3 linked regions of the Homo sapiens genome follow. The protein of the gene in region 1 purifies or fractionates together with the protein of each later gene. This does not show direct contact. Each region holds a gene or a part of one and is shown on either strand. Other genes may lie near its edges.

What was found.
Region 2: the proteins of AKR1A1 (region 1) and SLC7A14 purify together in Homo sapiens (co-immunoprecipitation; one large-scale study listed by IntAct). This does not show direct contact.
Region 3: the proteins of AKR1A1 (region 1) and TRIP12 purify together in Homo sapiens (affinity purification with mass spectrometry; one large-scale study listed by BioGRID and IntAct). This does not show direct contact.

Annotation. Positions count from the first base shown.
Region 1 is NC_000001.11:45,564,253-45,567,903, reverse strand, and holds part of AKR1A1 (aldo-keto reductase family 1 member A1), read right to left. Parts: intron 1,336-3,651; coding exon 1,216-1,335; intron 1,036-1,215; coding exon 884-1,035; intron 1-883. UniProt on the Homo sapiens protein: Catalyzes the NADPH-dependent reduction of a wide variety of carbonyl-containing compounds to their corresponding alcohols.
Region 2 is NC_000003.12:170,478,065-170,481,715, forward strand, and holds part of SLC7A14 (solute carrier family 7 member 14), read right to left. Parts: intron 3,103-3,651; coding exon 2,225-3,102; intron 1-2,224. UniProt on the Homo sapiens protein: Imports 4-aminobutanoate (GABA) into lysosomes. May act as a GABA sensor that regulates mTORC2-dependent INS signaling and gluconeogenesis. The transport mechanism and substrate selectivity remain to be elucidated.
Region 3 is NC_000002.12:229,915,510-229,919,160, forward strand, and holds part of TRIP12 (E3 ubiquitin-protein ligase TRIP12), read right to left. Parts: intron 1-3,651. UniProt on the Homo sapiens protein: E3 ubiquitin-protein ligase involved in ubiquitin fusion degradation (UFD) pathway and regulation of DNA repair.

The sequences.
Region 1 (3,651 bases):
TCCCAAACTCCAATCCCAGAGAGGACAAAGGGCCAAGAATTTTTAAAAAGCCATGCTTTTTCTTTTTTTTTTTTTTTGAGATGGAGTCTCGCTTTACCGCCCAGGCTGGAGTGCAGTGGCACTATCTCAGCTCACTGCAAGCTCCACCTCCTGGGTTCACGCCATTCTCCTGCCTCAGCCTCCCCAGTAGCTGGGACTACAGGCGCTCACCACCACGCGCAGCTAATTTTTTGTATTTTTAGTAGAGACGGGGTTTCACCGTGTTAGCCAGGATGATCTCGATCTCCTGACCTCGTGATCCGCCCGCCTTAGCCTCCCAAAGTGCTGGGATTACAGGCGTGAGCCACCGCGCCTGGCCAAAAAAAGCCATGCTTTTTCATCCTTCCAGATCGTAACCCAGGTGTTAAGTTTACATGGAATGCCTATGCCCCCTCCTCTTCCTAGACGTAGATATCTCCTCTCCCCTAGGAAGTCTTCCTTAACTCATCCTCAGGGAGTTATCCACCCTTCTTCCAGCACAGGGCACGGCACTAATGGTGAGCTCTTCTCACATCTTCTGCTGAGACTTACTTATTACTGTAACCCCAGGTGCTCAACAGAAAAGTCAGCACCTTTTCTAAATGAATAAAGGGAGCAGGAGGGTTACAGGTGCATACCCTGGGGTACACACCATGTGAGACTGCCTTCCTTTTTCCAGAGTTAAACTCCTGTAGCTACAGCTAAGCTGCTGTAGCAGAAGAGGCTAAGATCCCATGTCAAGCTCCTCAGCTTGGCATGCAAATGAGTGTTCCTATCCTGCTCTGCTGCTGTGACTTACAATAAGTTACTAACACCATCCTGCTCAACCCCCTGATTCCCCAGATGAGGCTCTGGCAAGGCTCACTCAAAGGCATAAGGCCAGTGCATCAGGTACAGGTCCAGATACTCCAGCTGGAGGTCAGCCAGAGTCTTCCGGAGGGCAGGCTCCACATCCTCGGGGTGGTGCTTGGTGTTCCACAGCTTGGATGTCACAAACAGCTCCTCCCGAGGCACCGCCTAGTGCAGGGGGCAGGGCCCACAGTGAGAAGAGCCATGAGCACGTGGTCTCACCCACCCTCAACTCTGGGAGAGGAACTGGAAGGAAGCTGATGCCAGATTCCCTCCAGCTGGGCCCCAGCCCTAGCTTCAGCTTCTAAGTTCTCTTATCCCACCTCTATTTACAACCCCAGTCCTTACCTTGCCTGGTCCCACGTCCTCCTTCAGGGCCTCCCCAATCTCAGGCTCATTGCCGTAGATAGCAGCACAATCAATGTGGCGGTAGCCTACGCTAAGGGCATACTTAACAGCTGCTTTTACCTGCCAGGTGAGAGAAGCAGAGGTTTCAGCTATGTTGGTTTCAGCCTTCTACTGTCACCACCCCAAGGTCAATGCTGGGGGAAGGGGGCTCAGAAATATAACAGGCACATCTATGCAGTGGAGGTGAAAAGATGGAAGATGAACTGGGCGCGGTGGCTCACGCCTGTAATCCCAGCACTTTGGGAGGCTGAGGTGGGCAGATCCCCTGAGGTCAGGAGTTCGAGACCAGCCTGGCCAGCTGGAGGTCAGCCTGGCCAACATGGTGAAACCCCATCTCTGCTAAAAATACAAAATTAGCCAGGTGTGGTGGCAGGTGCCTGTAATCCCAGCTACTCAGGAGGCTGAGGCAGGAGAATCACTTGAACCCAGGAGGCAGAGGTTGCAGTGAGCTGAGATTGTGCCACTGCACTTCAGCCTCGGCAACAAGAGCGAAACTCCATCTCAAAACAAAGAAAGAAAAAAAAAAAGATGGAAGATGGTTTCAGTCTAAGGGACCAGAAGCCTCTTCAGAGGCTCCAAACCCTTTGCTCTGCTCCCACCCCAACCAGTCTCTAAGATGCCTTCCTACCCAAGCCATCTCAGCAAGGTCTAGCAAAAACTAACAATATTTTCCCGGCATCTACCATAAAGAGGGCTTCAGTAAATATTTTTTCAGGCTGAGCACAGTGGCTCACGCCTGTAATCCTAGGACTCTGGGAGGCTGACATGGGAGCATTGCTTGAAGGCAGAAGTTCAAGACCAGCCTAGTCAACATAGTGAGACCCCCACCTCTTTAAAAAAAAAAAAAAAATTAAGGCCAGGCGTGGTGGCTCACGCCTATAATCCCAGCACTTTGGGAAGAAGAGGCAGGTGAATCACCTGAGGTCAGGGGTTTGAGACCAGCCTGGCCAACATGGTGAAATTCTTTTCTCTACTAAAAATACAAAAATTAGCTGTGCATGGTGGCATATGCCTGTAGTCCCAGCTACTCAGGAGGCTGAGATAGGAGAATCGCTTGAACCCAGGCGGGGGAGGCTGCAGTGAGCTGAGATCATGCCACTGCACTTCATCCTGGGCGAGACAGAGTGAGACTCCGTCTCAAAAAAACACAAAAAAAATAACAACAAAAAATTGAAAACAAATTTTTTTTTTTAAATAAAAGCCAGGCGCGGTGGCTCACACCTGTAATCCCAGCACTTTGGGAGGCCGAGGTGGGTGGATCACCTGAGGTCGGGAGTTTGAGACCAGCCTAACCAACACGGAGAAACCCCGTCTCTACTAAAAATACAAAATTAGCTGGGCGTGGTGGTGCATGCCTATAATCCCGGGTACTTGGGAGGCTGAGGCAGGAGAATCGCTTGAACCTGGGAGGTGGAGGTTACAGTGAGCCAAGATCATGCCATTGCACTCCAGCCTGGGCAACAAGAGTGAAACTCCTTCTCAAAAAAAAAAAAAAAAAAAAAAAAATGGCTGGGTGTGGTGGCTCACGCCTGTAGTCCCAGCACTTTGGGAGGCTGAGGTGGGTGGATCATGAGGTCAGGAGATCGAGACCATCCTGGCTAACACGGTGAAACACCGTCTCTACTAAAAATACAAAAAATTAGCTGGGCGTGGTAGGGGGTGCCTGTAGTCCCAGCTACTCAGGAGGCTGAGGCAGGAGAATGGTGTGAACCTAGGAGGCGGAGCTTGCAGTGAGGCGAGATTGCGCCACTGCACTCCAGCCTGGGCGACAGAGCAAGACTCCATCTCAAAAATAAAATTAAATAAATAAATAAATAAATAAAAATTTAAAAATTTTCAAAAATAAATAATTTTTTTTTTCAATCAGAAGACAGATGGATAAATAGAGAAAAGAAGTATAGACCATGGAAACAAGTTCCAGGTTCTAAGGAGCTGGTTAGAGAAACACAGGAAAAAATTCCTAGGCCAAGGACATACAGGGAGTTGTGTAGACAGACTCTGGGAACTCTGGGAGCACAGGCCAGCAAAAGAGGTTAGAAGGGGGAAAAGATTAAGGAAGGCAGATAAGTAGGCTGAAAGCTGGAGGCAGATAAGTGGGCTAAAAGCTGGACCCAGAACTCCCTAATGAGAGAGAAGAAAACAGGCATCAGATAGAAGGATGGGTCAGTTAATTTTGCTAAAATCCAGACTGGAAACACGGCATCAGCAGCAGAAACAAGGGTACCCGGCCCTAGACACAAAGCACCCAAAGCTCTTGTTGTGGGTGCCTGACATAGTATTCAAGATCCCCACCCGGGTGCCGACGTACTTCCCCTAACATCTGACCCCTGCTGTTCCATGCCCCGCCTTGGCCTTGTCTGTGGCCCCCAACCCTCT
Region 2 (3,651 bases), on another chromosome or scaffold:
TAAAATATTAATTTTTTTAAAAAAATTTTTTGAAATGGAGTCTTGCTCTGTCTCCCAGGCTAGAGTGCAGTGGTGTGATCTCAGCTCACTGCAACCTCCATTTCCTGGGTTCAAGCAATTTTCCTGTCTCATCCTCCCAAGTAGCTGGGATTACAGGCACTTGCCACCACGCCTGGCTAATTTTTGCATTTTTTATAGAGATGGGGTTTTGCCATGTAGGCCAGGCTAGTCTCGAACTCCTAAACTCAGGTGATCTGCCCTCCTCGGCCTCCCAAAGTGCTGGGATTATAGACGTGAGCCACTATGCCCAGCCAAGAGATTGTAAATGTGTTATAAAAATTGGTTAAAATCTTGATGAGTCAGTGGGGTCCTCTCAAGAAATCCTCCTGAAGTCTAACCAGGGGGACTTAGAATAGTGAAAAATTGGGACAAAATGCTTACAGGAAGCCATAGAGCAGCCTTCAGAAGCAAGGAGTCAGGCCTCTGGGGAAGACATATGCCCTTTCCATTGGTTGCTACTTTTTCCCCCACTTCTTTCTATCTATATCTTAACTTATAGGGCCACTTTGTATTCTACCCCCTCCAAGTTTTTTCTGGCAATTCTGACTGGAAGTTTTCCTTTTTCCCCTTTGAAGAGTACTTTATAATAATTTAAGAAGTATTTTTGAGCACATACTGCGGGCACCCTGCTCCAGACACGGAGGACACATGTTGAACAAGTGTATTCCTGATCTCTAGGAGTGGATGCACTGCCACTCATCACTAAGAGTCTCTGTGGGCTGGGCACAGTGGCTCATGCCTGTAATCCCAGCACTTTGGGAGGCTGAGGTGGGCAGATCATGAGGTTGAGAGTTCGAGAACAGCCTGGCCAACATGGTGAAACCCTATCTCTACTAAAAACACAAAAATTAGCAGGGCATGGTGGCACTCACCTGTAATATCAGCTACTCAGGAGGCTGAGGCAGGAGAATTGCTTGAACCTGGTTGGCGGAGGTTGCAGTGGGCCATGATCAAGCCACTGCACTCCAGCCTGGGCGACACAGCAAGACTCCATCTCAACAACAACAAACAAAACAAAACAAACAAATAACAACAACAACAACAACAACAAAAAGAGTCTCTTTGGCCTCTCTTGGGCTAAGTGACTCGTGTGTTTGTCTTGCCTCTCCTTTAGGCAGGGTTTACTCTTCTATTCCCCAGAGCTTCTAAAGATCCTCTTTAGCTAAGAATTTGTTATCAGAGACCCCAGGGTTACCAAGTTGTTCAGAGGACATACAAATAGTGACTAAGGAACTTTAAAATGAGTCTTCCATTACACTTCTCAAGTTCTTACTAGCATCAATCCCCAGCCACCTCATGAACATCAGAGATTGTCCTAGATGATAAGCAAGTACTGCAAATACAATAGAAATGGATCACAAAGTAAAATTAGAAATCTTAGAGAAGGTACAGGACTTCTTGAAGTCCGTGAAAGTGAGTTTAGAGAACAATTTGAATTCACACCCAAAATTGTAGACAATTGAGGACCTAACAGAGTCATATTAGTTATTACCAGCAGGAGAGAGAAAATCAGTAAGGATGGTGGCATGATGGGTACTTCCCAAGTGAATGATTGGAATGTCAATGAATGAAGAAAGGACCTTGGGAAATATGAAAAACTTTTGAATATTTTACAAAAGTCAGTATGAAGTGAGAGATGTTAAATGATGCCATGATTCAATTTTGTCAGAAAAATTATGCCAAAAAATCCACACTTAATTCACACCTTGTTCATTTAAAAATGAGAGCATAATTGCTATTTTAATTTAATTTTGTGAAATCTAAGATAGTTTTTCATTTTACAATTCTTAGTTTCTATGATAAAATTCCATCCAAATGCCCTGACCCCAATTATACTATGCTATTTTTGTCACCTTAAAAATGTGGATTCACTTTAAGTGGACTTTTTCTGGTATTAATTATCCTGATATAGAAAGAACTTTCAGTAATTCAGTAAAGCGATGGATTAATCAACATCATTTTTCCAGAACCAATGACTAAGAACATTACAGGCAGAAAGGGGACAACTGGCTTTATTGACTCTTAGGCGGAACACAAGGGTCCATAGAACCAGCCAGATTTCTCTGGGAACGGAGTTGCCTAGTCCAGCTAGGAGGTAATTTTGGGATAAGCATGCTTAAGACCTTAAAAGGGAACTCTTAAGGCTCCAAAGGAAGTTGCTTACCCACAAAGCACCAGACCGCAAACCGGATCCATGTGATGGTGGAGAGCTTTAGCATGAGATAGATGTTCACCAGCATGGCAAAGGCAGGCACAAAGGGGAGGCAAGGGGCCATGTAGGGCAGCTTCTTGGGGTTCTCTGGCTGCTGCAGGATCACAAACACCAGGGTGCTGATCAGCAGCACCATCAGAACAACCAGAAGGATGGCCCACCAGCTCTGCTCTGAGATGTAGTCAGAACCAAAGATGATGAAGGAGCAGAAGATGAACATGAGGATGAAGAGCAGGAGCACGCAGATGGTCACCGTGTGCCCCGTCGCTGCTGTGGGCCGGTCCATTTTGCCTGGAAGGCCCAGCCGGATTCTCATGGTGTAATAATGAGGCCCAATCAGCTTCTTTAACTTGATGAGATAAATATTTTCGGATTCATCAGCTTCTATGCCTGTGGTCATGTCCACGGTGCCGTAATTGGGGTGGTTGACGTTGTAGGTTGACTTGTCTGATTTCCCTATGAGCATCTCATTGTCTCCCAAGGATGGTAAGTTCTTGGCCCCACATGTGTTGGTGGCTGGGCCAGAAAACTCATCCCCCTCACTCACAGGAGAACAAGCTTCCTTCTCACAGTCAGCCAGAATGCCCTCCTTCTTCTTGGTGTGCTCCTCAGACAAGAACTTGACAAAACCATCAATGTCACTCTCAGGTTGGTATCGAAGGAGCAAGACACAGACAGAGACCAAGGTGTAGGCCAGGAGCGTGCCGATAGACATCATCTCTATCAGGTCTCTCAAGCTGACCAACAGTGCGAGGAGCGCTGCCAGGAACCCCGACACGATGCAGGCCACCACTGGTGTCTCTGTGTAGGAGCTGACGTGAGCCAGGAACCTGGAGGGGCCGGGCAAGCAGAGGGTTAATGGTGAGCTACAGTGACCGATTCCAGTGCAGCCAACATAGGGAGCTAGAACTATCAATAGGCTGGTGTGATTAACTCCTCCTGGTCCTGCTCCACCAATTTACTTCTGCATTCACTACTTTAAATCCAGCTGCTATTCCTACCCCAGGATTTGGTATATAATTAAAAAAGAATTCACTTTAAATCTTTGATTTCTTTTTTTTTTTTTTTTTTGGTGAGATGGTGTCTCACTCTGCTTACTCTGTCCCCCAGGCTGGAGTGCAGTGGCGTGATCTCAGCTCACTGCAACCTCCACCTCCTGGGTTCAAGTGATTCTCCTGCCTCAGCCTCCCGAGTAGCTGGGATTACAGGCATGCACCACTACACCCGGCTAATTTTTGTATTTTTAGTAGAGACAGAGTTTCACCATGTTGACCAGGCTGGTCTCGAACTCCTGACCTCATGATTCACCCACCTCAGCCTCCCAGAGTGTTGGGATTATAGGTGTGAGCCACTGTGCCTAGACTAGTTCTTTGATTTTA
Region 3 (3,651 bases), on another chromosome or scaffold:
TATTTTCACAAGACTTATTCTGTCAACAAACGCTTAATCCCTATCATGGGCCAGCTACTGTGCTAGATGCAGAGATAAAAAGGGACACTACTTGGGATTAGTGTCCTTATAAAAGTTAAAAAAAGGGTGAGGGCTAAAGACTTTAAAGAATTCATAATCAACTAAGGAATACTATTGTATACTAAAAAAAAAAAAAAATTTTTTGAGACAGGGTCTCACGGTCACCCAGGCTGGAGTGCAGTGGCACAATTACAGCTCAGCACAGCTTCCATCTCCCAGGCTCAAGCAATCCTCTCACCTCAGCCTCCCAGGTAGCTGAAGACTACAGGCATGTGCCACCATGCCCAGCTAATTTTTTACTTTTAGTAGCAACAAGGTCTCTACTAAGTTGCTCAGGCTAGTCTCAAACTCCTGGGCTCAAGTGATCCTCCTGCCTCAGCCTCCCAAAGTTCTGGAATTACAGGCATGAGCCACTGGGTCAAATGTTTCAAGTAGGATACCTATGCATATAACAGAGGTATGTTCGAGTTAAAAGAGTTTTAACAAATGAGGCAATGGTCCACAGTACTGTAAACAAGTGGAGAAAGGGCCTTGTGTTCCAATTCATCTGTGGAGCCTAATCTAAATACAGAATGTCTAGCATATAAATGACAACTGACTCTACATTAGGTGGTAATAATCAAATTTTTCAGATTAGGCACTTGAAGCTCACAAAGTACTAAGTTAAATTATTTGCCCAAGGTTACAAAGATGGGAAATGCATAGCCAGGATTGGAACCTAAGTCTTGCCTTCAAATCAGATAATCACTTGAACAGTGCTATTAAGGAAAACACACAGTAGCAGGTATTTTTCACTCTAGACCATTTGAATGACTTTTTAAATCAAGCATAACCATGATAGCCAAGTGTGGAGGTGCCCGTCTGTGATCCCAGTATTTGGGAGGCTGAGGCAGGAGAATCACTTGAACCTGGAAGGTGGAGGTTGCAGTGAGCCGAGATCGCGCCACTGCACTCCAGCCTGGGTGACAAAAGTGAGACTCTGTCTCAACAAACGAACAAGCATAACCATGAAACTGACTACTGCCAATAGCTTCTGCACTCTCAAGACAAAGCAGGTAAGCCTGAATAATGGGTAAGTTCCTTTTTCTTCTATCCAATTCAGTTTAATGAAATCACTGAAATCACAATAAACAACCAAAATCTAAAAGGCCTCAGAGAAAAATGACTGAACAGACTTATTTCAGTCTAGGAAACCTCTTTTTGCCAATAACCTAAAACTATCAGTAAGTTAGGATATTAAAGAACTACATTTTTAAAAAACCCAAGACATTAGCAGAGTTAAATTTTACTTAAAAAAAAAAAAAGAAAAATCAAGGGACAGGTCTAGCATCGGTATACTTATCTATTTATTACAAATAACAGCAAGCATCCATTATGCACAGAGAAACCCAGCAGAGAGGTAGAGAACAACTGCTTTGAGGTTATGTCTTCAAGTCTGTAACACAGCTGCTGAAATGATACACAAGTACCAAAAGAAAATACACAAGTAAAGCTTACATTACACTACACGTTAAGAATTACCAAGCACTGGCCGGGCGCGGTGGCTCACGCCTGTAATCCCAGCACTTTGGGAGTCCAAGGCGGGTGGATCACGAGGTCAGGAAATCAAGACCATCCTGGCTAACAAGGTGAAACCCCATCTCTACTAAAAATACAAAAAAATTAGCTGGGCGTGGTGGCTGGCACCTGTAGTCCCAGCTACTCGGGAGGCTGAGGCAAGAGAATGGCATGAACCCTGGAGGCGGAGCCTGCAGTGAGCCAAGATCGCGCCATTGCACTCCACCCTGGGCAACAGAGCGAGACTCTGTCTCAAAAAAAAAAAAAAAAAAAAAAAAAAAAAAAAAAAAAAATTACCAAGCACTAAGATTATATACAACAATCTAAAAATTATATTTATTCTGTAACATCCACCAGATTTTTACTCTTCCACCCTATCTGGCCTGGACTCTCCTCAGGCTTGGCCTTATTAACTAAAGCTTGGCCTATGAAAAAAGTGGCACAGAATAATCCACTGGCTTAACACTAAAACATGGCAGTGACAGTTGATATCCATCCAGGCACTCTAATGGCACGTTAGTCAGGGGAGATGTGAAGAGGCCCTGATCACTGAACCAACCAAGAGAAAGCATTCTGAAGAATCTGCTGGGGTCAAAGAACCCTTCCAAGCAGGTTGGAGTCCAGTGGCATGATCATAACTATTAACTTCAAATCTCTGGGTTCAAGCAATACTTCCGCTTCAGCCTCCAAAGTTGCCTAGAACTACTGATGCATGCCACCATGCCCAGCTAACTTTTTTTTTCTTTTTTGTGGAGACAGTCTCACTATGTTGCCTGGGCTACAACTCCTAGCCTCAAGCGATCCTCCCACGTCCTCACCTCCAGTGCCACCTCACCCAGACCAATCAGGTTTATTAGTATACCTTCACACATACCACATTGACATGAAATCATCCTTGCCCTCAGGAAGCCTACAGTCCAATCAGGGAAACAAAAGCAACACATGTCAACAAATGCAATACTGTAATGCAGAAACGAAGCAAGTACAGTTAATCAGAAATACAAAGATCACAGGTAGAAACTTGTTCGAGGAAGTGATCTGAAGACATGAGTTGTAAGTTGTTCTTCACATCCTTTATCTTCTATGTTTTTCTGTACATAGTGGGTGCTTGCTTGATTTAAATGAGGGAAAAGTCCATGTCAAACAGGCAATTGCAAGGAATGATTTCAGTGAAGATTAAAAAACCAAGTAGGTTGCTGTTTTGACTTGAGTCCATCAAATAGCAAACAAAAAAATAAAGGAGCAACTGGTATCACATTTGCTCAAAAAGATCCCTACCCATCCACTTAAAAGGGGGGAAAGTTCCCTAGGTTCTGTAAAGAAAACAGTGACCAAGATTCAGAAGCATTATTCCCTAATTGTAATCTCTTACATTAAGTCAATTTCATTAGAGTCACAAACCAGAACAGGTACTTTGTCAATAAAAAACGTAAATGAATTTGAAGTTTCTTTAAACATATTAACAAGTTTTTTCAGTAGAATGTATGGCAAACAAGTATCTGGCATGCTGATACCAAAAAAAGAAGGTAACTTTAAAAAGACAAAAATGAGACCCAAATTCTACTACCAATTAAGCAGCAATTTCAAATTATGAAGTTCTATAACTCTGTACCTTCAACCTAGTTTACATTAATTCTCCCCTGCCCCATGGACCACCACGACTAATGAGAAGCTGTATCTTTTAAAAATGACCTCAAAACAGCTCATGTAATTTTCTAAAATTAATTTATTTAGCATGTTGTTTTTTTTCAGTCATTACATCTGTTGGGTCTCACAACCACCCAGTGAGGTAAAATAGAGATTACCCACTCCCATTTTACAGATAAAATAAATGAAGACCAGATAGGTTAAGTGACTAGCTCAAGGTCACAAAGCTACTAACTGGTAGTGTGTGAATTTCCAAGCCAGTGATGTTTTCCTTGCTAAGATGAAAACCTTAAAATAAAGCAGGATATTAAAACCTTGTCTAGATAACATAAATACAATAATCTTACAAGTTACACTGGGGCCGGCGTGGTGGCTCTCCCCTGCAAT